Linked DNA regions of Homo sapiens: all the other regions are reported to be linked to region 1. Evidence: microRNA targets listed by miRTarBase, many of them from high-throughput screens and not tested one by one. Region 1 holds a microRNA gene; each other region holds the end of a gene's coding sequence.

The links. Region 1 holds the annotated microRNA hsa-miR-4793-3p (UCUGCACUGUGAGUUGGCUGGCU, at 3,252-3,274, opposite strand). A microRNA usually pairs through its seed, bases 2 to 8, with sites in the 3' UTR of a target mRNA and lowers its output. Matches are read on the target gene's strand: a 7mer-m8 pairs with bases 2 to 8, a 7mer-A1 pairs with bases 2 to 7 and ends in A, and an 8mer does both.
Region 2: the mRNA of CCT4 is a reported target of hsa-miR-4793-3p. The part of its 3' UTR that is shown has no 7-base or 8-base seed match.
Region 3: the mRNA of IMP4 is a reported target of hsa-miR-4793-3p. The part of its 3' UTR that is shown has no 7-base or 8-base seed match.

Annotation. Positions count from the first base shown.
Region 1 is chr3:48,640,950-48,645,449 of GRCh38, forward strand. It overlaps MIR4793 (microRNA 4793), which reads right to left and starts at 3,331; the gene lies at 3,245-3,331. CELSR3 (cadherin EGF LAG seven-pass G-type receptor 3) reads right to left here. Exons shown (of 35, transcript NM_001407.3): 24 at 4,494-4,500; 25 at 4,086-4,260; 26 at 3,767-3,879; 27 at 3,267-3,346; 28 at 2,605-2,728; 29 at 2,018-2,134; 30 at 1,787-1,935; 31 at 1,409-1,518; 32 at 902-1,060; 33 at 375-575.
Region 2 is chr2:61,865,265-61,869,229 of GRCh38, reverse strand. CCT4 (chaperonin containing TCP1 subunit 4) reads left to right here. Exons shown (of 14, transcript NM_006430.4): 14 at 524-1,145. The coding sequence ends at 538. Among named protein-coding and RNA genes, the nearest start is that of FAM161A, 13 kb to the right of the region's middle.
Region 3 is chr2:130,346,033-130,349,997 of GRCh38, forward strand. IMP4 (IMP U3 small nucleolar ribonucleoprotein 4) reads left to right here. Exons shown (of 9, transcript NM_033416.3): 7 at 1-80; 8 at 169-242; 9 at 324-1,935. The coding sequence ends at 436. Among named protein-coding and RNA genes, the nearest start is that of IMP4, 5.1 kb to the left of the region's middle.

The sequences.
Region 1 (4,500 bases):
AAACCTCTTCTCCGGGTCCCCATAAAAGCAGAGTAGGGGGCAGAAATCTTCCAGATCAGAGCACGGGCTCTGGGATCTGGGTGGGGGGCAGGGGGAAGCAGCTCCTAGGGTCTCTGAAAAACAGATGGGCTGGGGCAGGAGTGGTCGCCTGTGGTCCCCCTGTGGTGCTGGCCAGGGTAGAGGGGGACAGAGAATTCCCAGGTCAGGACAGGAGCAGTCCCTGAGGACCGTGAAGCAGGCTAGAGAAGCAGAAGCGCCCTAGGTCAGAGTAAGAAGAGCTCTCAGTTTGGGATGAGGAAGCTGCAATCCCTTGGCTCAGGGCATGAGCAGCCCCCAGCGTGTCTGCGGTGTGGGCCAGGGCTCAGGGACTGTACCTTTCCTCTGGCGCTGGGCCCGGCCCAGAGAAGTCTCATCCCCACTGGTCAGGGCCGGGTCTGGCTGGTTGTTGTTAGCTGCATCCTTGCTGGTGTCCAGCCCCAGGCGCCTTTCAGAGCCCCAAGTCTGCAGAGCACAGGGGGCTGCCTCGCACTCCCCCAGGGCTGGCCAGTAGGACAGGAGGTCATTGCCATCCACATCTGTGGAGCCAGGTCAGGTTACAGGAGCTTCTGGGTTGATCCCAGTGACTCATGACCCCTGACCCTAATGACCCTTGAAACCCTGGCTGTTCTCATTGAGCAGAGGTGGGAACAGGAGGGTATCTCCTCAGAGATCAATGGGTGGGGGTGACTGGTGAGCTCCCTCCCCTTAACTGGAGGTGGACAGAGACTAAAAGTTGGGGAACCTGATGACTGAGGGGTCAGAAAGACCAGGATGAACCCCAACCGCAGGAAAGATGGGGAGCTGGAGGGATAACAAATGGGGCATCCCTTGGTCACCCAAGGGGTCAGAGGGCGCCTGGCACCTTTGGGGTGGGTGAGGAGCCTCTCACTCTGGGCTGCTCGGCAGAGTGGCCGTTGGAAGCGCCCCCGCGTCCGGCCATTGTCCTCGCTTTCTGAAGATGGAATGGAGAGACTCCTCTCCTCCTCCAAGGACAGGTCACTGTCAGAGTCGGAGTCTGCGCCTGGAGTTGGGAAAGTCAGAAGTACTTTCAGAGGTAAGGGACTTGGAGATAAGGGAATTTGGAGTTGAGGGTCTAGAGGTGGGTACGGCAAGGGGGTTAGGGTTGGGGACAGGAACCGGGGCTTGAAGTGGAGGTAGCAGCAGAAGGGCTGGGACTTATCAGAGGGAAGGACGAATCAGGAGTGGACTGGGAGAACCAGGGCTGGAGAGGTAGGTGCCTCCTGAGGCAGGGACCCTGGGGGAGATCGTCCCACCCCAGTCAGCCACTGCTCCCAGTATGGGGTAGAAGAAAAGGGGATGGGGAGAGATCCTCTGCCTCCCTCCTCCCTGCCCCAGGCCCCAACTCCACCAGCATCTCGATGGAACATGGCCACGTCCAGGTCAGTGGGGCCAGCATGAGCCTGGAGGCTGTGGTCAGTGTGGTCAGCGGCTGAGCCATGTCGAACCAGGACATTGTCCCTGGAAAAGCAGGAGCCCCCCCACCATGAAAGAGGGATGTGATGGGGTGCCTTGGAGGCTGGAGTGTCTTTGAGTGCACAGCCAGCTGCGGGTGGAATGGCATCCCTGGGTGTGTGTGGTGGGAAGCATTTAGGGCAGAGGCAGAAGCAGGGCCCCAGATGGCCAAGATGGGTGGAGCCACCCGCCCTAGGACCTGGTCAGCCAAGCCCTGGTAAGGTGGGGCTGGACTAAGCTGAGTGTTCCCTCACAAGGAGGCTCTTCCTCTCACCTGAGGTAGCTGCGGCCCCGCTGGCTGTCCTGGTCCTGGGTCCGGCCGGAGCGGGCACTGCTCACAGAGGAGACGGTGGAGGCGCCCAGAGTGATGCGGATGAGGCCACTCTCCTCAAAGAGAGCCGTGTTGTTGTAGGCCCCAGGTCCCTGGGGGTGGTAGGGACAGAGTGTGAGCTAACCCTGAAGCAGCCTAAAACTCTGGCTTCTCAGGGCCCCCATCCCGACTCACCAGCCCAGGTGCTGGCCTTGCCTCCTCAGGCGCTGCCTTCCTGCCCAGACAGGCTGGCATCCAGGCAGCCCGAGCATCTGCATTTAGGACACAGAAGAGCAGCAGCACCGCCAGGCCCTGTGGGTCAGCGAGGGTCAAAGCAGAGTCGGCAGGGATCAATCAGGGACCAGTATAAGTCACTGTGGGTCAGCAATGGGGTCAGTCACTGTAGGCTAGTGTGGGTCAGTGAGGAGCCCATGCGGGACTCAGTAAGGGAGTTGGGGAAGGTCAGCAGGGGAGAGGATGGAGCAGCAGGAGTGGCTGGAGTCTGTAAGGTCGGTGTGGATCAGCAAGGGGTCGGGAGCCTTGGTGTTGGTGAAGGTCGATCCAAGATCAGCACTCAGTCTGGGATCAGTGCCTAAGTTAGAGTCAGCTCCAGGCCTGGGGGCAGCAGCTAGGGCCAGTGTCTGGTCTGGGGTAGTACCCAGCCTGGCAAAGTTATCCAGTAAGAGTCAGCTCCAGGCCTAGGGTCAACGTCTGCCTAGGGATGGCCCCAGCCTACTGAAGGCCCACCTGGTTCTGGGGCAAGGGAGGGGCACCAGAGTCACCTGGAGGCCGCAGAGTCCAGCATGGAGGTAGTGGAAGGCTAGGATGCTGTGGTTGACTGCCAGGAGCCCAAAGAGCCAGGAGGCACTGACCAGCAGAAGCAGCAGGAAGGAGCTGCGAAGGGTCCTGCTGTGGGGACATGGGAAGACACAGGAGGACATGCAAGGCTCATGTAGGACTCATGCAGGGAACACGGGAGGACACACAGGGGCCACACACGAAACGTGAAAAAAAGGAACTCACACGGGAACATGGAGGTCTCTGGAGGACACTGGGGGAGATGGGAGGTCCCACAAAGAAACAGGAGAGCAGTCAAAGAGCCATGAGGACACGTGGGGAAAACACAGGGGTATGGGAGCCACAAGGGAGGGCACGGAAGACAGGTGGGAACACACAGGGCAGGGGGCAAAGTGAGCCACCCAGGCCATGGGAGACTCTGGGGGGACCCAGAGGACAAGGAGAGACAGCAGGGCAGAAGCACATGTGGGGCTACAGTATAGCGAGGGCGCCAGAGAGGGACCACAGGTCAGGGCAGGTGTGACTTCATTCCTTCATCTAGAACTTGGAGCCCAACCTGCACCAGGGAAGATCTGGGGGCCCCAGACCCCACCCAGGAGGGACCTGCCATCCTGAGAAGCCCCCTTCCTCCAGCCAGCCAACTCACAGTGCAGAGGTCTTCTTGGCCTCCCTCTGCCCTGTGGAGCAGGATGTGCGGGCAGCGAGGAGAAACATGGTCCCGTTCATCTGGACCCACGGCCAGACATGTGGGGCCGGGCAGGGCAGAGAGAGAGAGAGAGAGAGAGGCAATGAGAGACAGAGAGAGACTAAGATTCACGGAGAGAGGCAGAACCAGTGAGAAATTCACACATATACACACACACCAAAGGAGCTTAGCATCACAGAAAAAGAAATTGGGAACCAGAGAGGGACTGAGAGAGAGAAGCAGAGACAGAGGCAGGGACAGGCAACTGAATCTCTGACCCCGCGCCCCCATCTCCATGCCAGTTGAATGGGGGTGGCTACTGACCAGAGGACAGAAAAAATGAAGGCCGAGCCCAGGAAGCCTGCAGAATGCCACCTGACCGCCCTCAGCTGAGTCCACTGCACCTCCTCCCCCAATGAGGGAGGGAAGTACAGAGGGGGCACCAAGTCCAGGGCACTCACCACTATGACCAGGACAACAGGGCCAGCAAAGCTCCAGATGAGGGGCTCGTGGACTGAGATCCAGCAGAAGTCAGGGTTCCCATAGCCCTCAGGGTCCAGGCCCACAGCAAGGCCTTGGGAAGAGAAAGGGTAGGACTGAGGGTGTGTGTTCCAGAGCTGCTGACCAGCCCATGTATGGGAGAAAGCATGGGTGAGGGCAGAGCAGCAACCCCATGAATAGATGGCTTGGGGTTTGAGGTTGGGGGTCATGAGCAGGAGTGGGGACAGGGTCAGGGGTCAGGCCATGTGATGGTTGGAGGTTGGGGGTCACAGCCCTCACCCAGCAGCACAGCAGGGACGCCCCAGCCCAGGGCATGGTAGAAGCGCATGGCGCCGCGGTCCACGTTGCGTGGCTCAACCTGCATGCGGTAGAGGTGCAGCCCCTGCACGAAGAGCCACGCGAAGGTGCTGAGGAAGAAGTAGTGCAGGAGGATGGCGACTGCAGTGCACACCAGCTGAGGGCAGGGGGGCGTGTCAGGACCTCTCCTGCCTCACCCACCTCTGACCCCTACCCCAGGCATCTGCTTCCCACCTCTCACCCCTAAACCACAATATCTTACCCCAGCATCCTGCTGAAAACCCTGGCCCCAACCTGAGCATCCCTGACCTCTGACCCTGAGTTTTGGCCCCAGGCCTCCTGGGCCAGTAGGGTCATCAGGACACAAGTTCCCTGGCCCTGATCCTGCACCTGATTG
Region 2 (3,965 bases), not on the chromosome of region 1:
TGAGTAGCTGGGATTACAGGTGTGAGCCACCACACCTGGCCATTGTTTTTTTAAAAGTTTTTACTTTTTTTTTTTTTTTTTTTTTTCTGAGACGAAGTCTTGCTCTGTTGCCCAGGCTGGAGTGCAGTGGCATGATCTCGGCTCATTGCAACCTCCGCCTCCTGGGTTCAAGCGATTCTCTTGCCTCAGTCTCCCACCTCCCAAGTAGCTGGGATTACAGGCATGTGCCACCACACCCAGCTAATTTTTGTATTTTTAGTAGAGACGGGGTTTCACCATGTTGGTCAGGCTGGTCTCGAACTTCTTACCTTGTGATCCACCTGCCTCAGCCTCCCAAAGTGCTGGGATTACAGGCATGAGCCACCGTGCCTGGCCAAGTTTTTACTTTTGATAAATATTTGCTAGTCATCAAGGTGACAGCAGTTCTTAATACAGGTTTTCCTTTTATTAATTGCCTTAAACATTTTCCAGCTTTAAAATTCTGTCATTACAGGTTTTGAAATCTAAGTTTTTCTCTTATCAGGTAAACACTCGATAATCTGGATAACTGACTAGCACCATTATGATCACCAGTATTGTGGCTGGAATGGAAGAAGATCACCTTGGTGTTCCTTGTTTGGAAGATTATTTCCTCTGAATTTCTGGGCTTGGTCTTCCAGTTGGCATTTGCCTGAAGTTGTATTGAAACAATTTAATGAAAATATTAAATATTTGGTTTCAAAAGGCAGATTTATCTTCTCCCAACATTCTGTTATTTCTGATACTTTTGAAAAACTAATAAAAACTAATAAAAGAAGCGTAAAAAGTGAGTTTACATGTTGAGGAAAAAAATGGCCCAATATGCTCATCACTGATAAATGCTCCCTGGCCTTAAAAACTACCAACATATAATATATATGCTGTCTTAAAAGTTAATGATCCAAGTGGCACCTCTCTGAACCTACTTTGGCTTGGGAGGCTGCCCAGTTAAAACAAAAATAAGTTAATGGTACAGAAAGAGAATGAAAAATGAAAGCCTCCTTTTATCCTATCATCCTAATTCCTTTTCCCAGTAATAATGACTGCTGTGTTGGATTCCTTCTGCAAATAAAAGTGTATACATATATGTAGCAAATCTTACTTAAACAAAAGGGTTTCTTAACTAATGTCTTGTTCCAGTGATTTTAAACATCTTGATTGCCACTGTCCTGATCTAAGCATCAGTGTCATCTCACCATGAAGAGTGTCAAATCTGTAACTAGTCTCTTCCCTTTAGCCACCTTCCAATCTATTTATTTCGCACATATTGAAGTCTAGTGATTTTTTTTTTTTTAGAGAAAAGCTCATCACCCAGGCTGGAGTGCAGTGGCGTGATCATAGGTCACTGCAGCCTTGAACTCCTGGACTTGAGCTAAGAATAAAGAATCCTGCTTTATTCTTTAGAATAGCTACAGCTACAGGTATGTGCCACCATCCCTATATATATATGTGTGTGTATATATATATATATATATATTTTTTTTTTTTTTTTTCAGAAATGGGATCCCACTATGTTGCCCAGGCTGGTTTTGAACTCCTGGCCTTAAACAGTCCTGCCTTGGTCTTCTAAAGCCCTGGGATTAAAGGCACTTAGTCAAGCACTCTTTTTGTAAAAGCTTTCATACCTTTGAGTAAAGGCTAGACCTTTTAAGGTCGATCAAAAGTTTGGCCTAAACAATCTGGTATTTCAGCTACCATCTCCTTGAGTATTTCACAAGGAGTTTCATGAAAGCAACTAGGCCCCTCTAGCATTGTGGAGAAAGGATTTCAGCCAAACAGTCTGAAGCTCCTTTTGTGTTCATCATGAAACTGAAATAGTTAACTAACTTGGTAAGTGTCTAATATTTTTAGATAAAGATTTCTGTATTATCTGGAATTTAGTACTTCAATTTATTCCTCACTTTGATAAGAACGTGAAATATGTTAATTCTAGCTGCCATAAAACAGTTGAATCAGGTATATCCTAAAATCATAAGTCAAAATACCTAATCCATATTTAAACATCTGTCAGTTACTCAGCACAAGATGTTTTTTTTTTCAGTGGCAGTGCCTTGCCATGTTGCTTCGGCAGGAGTGGTGGCTATTCATGTGTGAAGATCATAGCTCACTATAACTTCAAACTCCTGGGCTCAAGTTTGCCACAGCCTCCCAAGTAACTAGCACTACAGGCCTGTGCCACTGCACCCAGATAGCAGAAAGTTTTTTTTGTTTGTTTTTTTGAGACAGAGTCTCGCTCTCACCCAGGCTGGAGTGCAATGGTGCCATCTTGGCTTACCACAACCTCCGCCTCCCAGGTTTAAAGCAGTTCTGCCTCAGTCTTCCGAGTAGCTGGGATTATAGGTGCACGCTGCCACACCCGGCCAGTTTTTGTATTTTTAGTAGAGATGGGGTTTTACCGTGTTGGCCAGGCTGGTCTTGAACTCCTGACCTCGTGATCCGCACATCTCGGCTTCCCAAAGTGCTGGGATTACAGGCATGAGTCACCATGCCCAGCCAAGTGTTTTTGTTTTATGTGTTTTGACACAGGGTCTTGCTCTGTCGCCCAGGCTGGAATGCATTGGCACAACTATGGCTCACTACAGCCTCAACTTTCCAAGGCTCAAGCAGTCCTTCCACCTCAGCCTCCCTAGTAGCTGGGACTACAGGCGCACACCACCATGCCTGGCTAATTTTTGTATTTTTTTTTCACAGAGACGAGGTCTCGCTGTGTTACCCAGGCTGGCGTTTAATTCCTGGGCTCAAGCTATCCTTACCTTGGCTTCCCAAAGTGCTAGGATTACAGGCATGAGCCACCATGCCCAGCCTAACAGCACAAAGCTTTTTGTTCATAGGTTATGCCTAAATAATACAAATAGTGTGTATAGCAGCATTCTTCGAATTCTTCCAGCCGGACGTGGTTGCTCACGCTTGTAATCCCAGCACTTTGGGAGGCCGAGGCGGGTGGATCACAAGGTCAGGAGTTTGAGACCAGCCTGGCCAACATGGTGAAACCCCGTCTCTACTAAAGGTAGGAAAAAAAAAAAAGCCGGGCATAGTGGCAGGCACCTGTAATCCCAGCTACTGGGGAGGTTTCAAGAGTAGTATGAACATTGTATTACCCTCCACTTAGATTTAGCTATTAATTGACCTTTTGTTACATAGTTAGGTAACAGAAGTCATTGCAGTATGCAAAATGGAGACAACACCCAAAAACTTTAGCACAAAGGAAGCCTAATAAGTTTTACCCATGTTAAATGGTTATGAAGTACTGTATTAATACGTCCATCTCAAGAAAAAAGAAAACAATTGTAAGAAAACAGTTCTGTAATGTCCAACACCCAATCCGTGTTCAGATTTTTCTGACAATCTCTAGAGCAGGGGTGTCCAATCTTTTGGCTTCCCTGGGCCACGTTGGAAGAAGAATTCTCTTGGGCCAAACCATAAAATACACTAATACTAACAATAGCTAATGAGCTAAAAAAAAAAAAAATACATATATAAAATGTTTTAAGAAAATTTACGAATTTGTGTTGGGTCACATTCAAAGCTGTCCTGGGCTGCTTGTGGCTTGTGGGCTGCAGGTTAGACAAGCTTGCTCTAGAGTGTCTTTTTTTTTTTTTTAATTTTTTTGAGATGGAGTTTTGCTCTTGTCGCCCAGGCTGGAGTGCAATGGTGTGATCTCAGCTCACTGCAACTTCCGCCTCCCAGGTTCAAGCCATTCTCGTGCTTCGGCCTCCCTAGTAGCTGGGATTACAGGCACGTGCCACCACATCTAGCTCATTTTTGGTTTTTTGTTTTTTTTTTTTCAGTAGAGACGGGGTGTCACCATGTTGCCTAGGCTGGTCTTGAACTCCTGACCACAGTTGATCCACCTGCCTCAGCCTCCCAAAATACTGGGATTACAGGTGTGAGCCACCATGCCCAGCCTGAGCCCACACCCAGCCACCTTTTTCTTACTCAGCCTCTCA
Region 3 (3,965 bases), not on the chromosome of region 1:
CGATACCTATTTCCCGTGCCCAAAGATGACAGCCACCGGGTCATCACCTTCGCAAACCAGGACGACTACATATCATTCCGGTGGGTCCACGGGCCATGCCCCAGGAAAGCATCCCCACCCTGTGTACCTCGTGCTGCTTGCCGTTGACCCACAGCTGTTCCCTCCCAGGCACCATGTGTATAAGAAGACAGACCACCGCAACGTGGAGCTCACTGAGGTCGGGCCCCGCTTTGAGCTGAAGCGTGAGTTTGAGGCTGAATCCCGTGTCTGGGGTGGGGAGGGGAGGCTGGCTGTGCCGGGGCTGATGCCATCCCTGCCTGCAGTGTACATGATCCGTCTGGGCACGCTGGAGCAGGAGGCCACAGCAGACGTGGAGTGGCGCTGGCACCCTTACACCAATACCGCACGCAAGAGAGTCTTCCTGAGCACCGAGTGAGCACACTCACCACTCAGTCAGGACATGGACTTGGAACTCAGGATGGGGCTGTCATAGACAGACCCACCAGTAGGAACTGTCACAGAATGGCCTGCTGAACTGGGATGTGGAACTGTGGCGGGTGGAGAGGTCTGAATAAACCGTCTGTGTCATGGCCCCGCCTGCCTCTGAGTGGTCAGGCCAAGTCTGCAGGGCAAAGCCCATGGGATCCCTTTGGGTGGGGACCTGATGGCTGTGGGACGTGCTTGGGCCTGGAGTCAGTGTGGGGGTTAACAGAGAGAGAGATTTGATGCTAACGTCCCCTCAAGAGTGAGGGTCATATGAGCTCTTCAGCAGGCAGATGTGGGTAGCAGGGCCAGCCTGTGTCAGGGGCAGCCCACCAAGTTAACTCACTGAGTGGAAGCCGCCAGTGTGCCAACGCGGAGGGGACAGGCCACACCCAGTGCTCAGCAGCTGATTCCTCATGTAAGTGGCATCATGTGGTATTTGTTTTGTGTCTGGCTTATTTCTATTAACATAATGTTCTCCAGGTTCCTCCATGTTATTGCAAATGATAGGATTTCTTTCCTTGTAAAAAATAACATGCCACATTTTCTTACCAATCCGTCCACCAATAGACACTTAGGTCGTTTTCATAGTTTGGCAGTTGTGGAAATGCTGCAGTAAACATGGGAGTATAGCTATCTTTTGAAGATAATGATTTCATCTCTTTTTTATATGTATACCCAGAAGTGGGATTGCTGCATCAAATGGTGGTTCTATTTTTAATTTTTTGAGGAACCGCCATACTGTTTTCCATAAAGGCTGTACTAATTTCCATTCTCACCAACAGTTCACTAGGGTTCCCTTTTCTCCACATTGTTGCCAACATTCTTTATCTTGTGTTTTTTAATAACAGCTATCCTAACAGGTATGAGGTGATCTCTCTCATTGCGGTTTTGATTTGCATTTCCCTAACGGTTGGTGATACTGAGCATTTTTGCATACACCGGGTCATTTGTTCTTTGTTGTTGACTTGAGTCCCTTATATAGTTTGGATACTGCTGTGGCCTGAATGTTTGTGTCCCCCAAAAATTCGTATATTGAACTCTCATCCCTAAGGTCAACAGTTTAGGGAAGCGATTAGGTCCTGAGGACTCTGCCCTCTTGCATAGAATTAGTGCTCTTATAAAAGATGCCCGAGGGAGCTCTTTTGCCCCTCCTGCCATGTGAGGACACAGCTAGAAGCTACCATCTGTGAACCAGGAAGCCCCCCTCACCAGACACTGAATCTGCTGGAGCCACCATCTTGGACTTCCCAGCCTCCAGAGCTGTGAGAAATAAATGCCTGTTGTTTAAGCTACCCAGTCTGTGGTATTTTGTTAGAACAGCCCAAGTTGAGACAGATAGTAACCCTTTACCAGATACATGGTTTGCAAATAGTTTTTCCCACTCTGTAGATATAGCCATTGAGAAGCTCCTCAAGATAGACATTAAATACAAAGAAGCATGGTGTGAAACGCCATGTGTGATATGCTGTCAGTGTGCAAAAGAGGCAGGGAGGGCCCTGCACTTGCATGTATGTGCTGCATCATCCCCAGAAGGCTGAACTCCTTGCTGGTGCACTGGGTACCCAGGGAGGAGGGAGGTTCTTTACTGTAATGTTAGCAGGTGAACATTGTATCCACTTGACCACGAAGAACTGCCCTCTTGAGTTCTCTGCCCATTTTTTGGGGGGGTACAGGCGGACACTTGGAAGACATCCTTATGATAAAAAAGCATACAGAAGGCCTGGTGCAGTCACTCACACCTGTAATAATCCCAGCGCTTTGGGAGGTCAAGGCAAGGAGGTTCACTTGAAGTCAGGAGTTTGAGACCAGCCTGGGCAATACAGGGAGAGCTCATCTCTACAAAACATTTTTAAAAACACACACAAGTGCACATGGTGAAAAGTAAACCATCATCCTCCTTCCACCCCAAAGAACCCATCCCTAGTCTCCAGAGGTCATCAGTATTGACTTTTTAAAGAAGCTGGACTGATATCTTTTATTCATGGTATCCATAAGTTTGTTGACTGTTAATTATATTTTAACCTGAAAGGGATCATGTTGTGCACACTACTCTGAACCTTGCATCTTACCCTTTAATGACAAATGGATGCCACAGGGCTCCAAGGCTGTCTAGTACACATGGATCTGCCTCCTTCCTTGTGGCTACATTGTTGGGTGGCTTCCTGTTTTTACCCCCACAAATACTGCTTCGAGAGCATCATTGAACATACTTCTGTGCATATTTATGCAAGTGTATCTGATGCATACATCCCTACAAGAGGAATTCGGGCGTGGTGGCTCACACCTGTAATCCCAGCACTTCGGGAGGCTGAGGCGGGCGGATCACCTGAGGTCCGGAATTCAAGACCAGCCTGGCCAACATAGTGAAACCCCATCTCTACTAAAAATACAAAAAATTGACCTGGCATGGTGGCGGGTGCCTGTAATCCCAGCAGCTCAGGAGGCTGAGGCAGGAGAATCGCTTGAACCCGGGAAGTAGAGGTTGCAGTGAGCCAAGATCACGCCATTGCACTCCAGCCTGGGCAACAAGAGCAAGACTCCGTCTCAATAAAAAGAAAACACTAAAATAAAATGATAGTAGAGGTTGTGTCTCTCCACAGGCACCATCACAAGATGTGAGCACCTGCTCCCCAGGTGAGCCCTGGGCATCATCAGAGGTTTTAACCTCTGTCACGCACTAGGTGCAAAATGTTTCCCCAATTGCATTTGCATTTCTTTAGTTACTCTGGAGGTTGTGCCTCTTTTCAAATACTTACTGGCCTTGTGTGTTATGTATTTTCTGTGATGGGTCTGCTCTCCTTATAGATGCATTTGTTCACCTCTAGATTGATTGTTTTAAATCTTGTTAGTTGTGGAAAATTTGAAACATACAAGAGCAGAGAAGATGGTATAGTGAGTCGCTGAGCCGGTTTTGATGTGAGCCAGTCTTCATAGCTCACCCACTCCCTGTATCCACTCCACCAGTTTTTAAAGTAGATCTCAGACATCAGAGCATTTCATCCATATGTATTTCCATGTATATCTCTAAAAGATAAGGACTCAACAACAACAAAAAAATTATTACACATAAAATTATCAATGATCATTCCTTTATATCATCAGATATCCACTTAATGTTCAGCTTGCCTTGATTAGAGTGTGCTTGTTTCGACTAAGATCGACATCAGGTCCATTCATTGCAAATAATTGACAAGTCTTTTAAAAACAGCTTTATTGCGATAGTCAACATATTACACAATTCACAGCGCAGGTTGAACTCACAGCCTTGTGCGCCCGTCCCTGTGCATCAATGATTTTTTAAAAATCATATTCATAGGGCTGTGTAACCATCACCACAATCTAATTTTGGAACATTTTTTGTCCCCCTCTGCCCCCACTGCCCCGGAGAGAAACCCCATACGCATTAGCTGTCACTCTAATCCCCTCCCTCCCACCAGGCCCCAGCCCCTCTGGCAACCACTAGTCTACTTTTGGCCAGA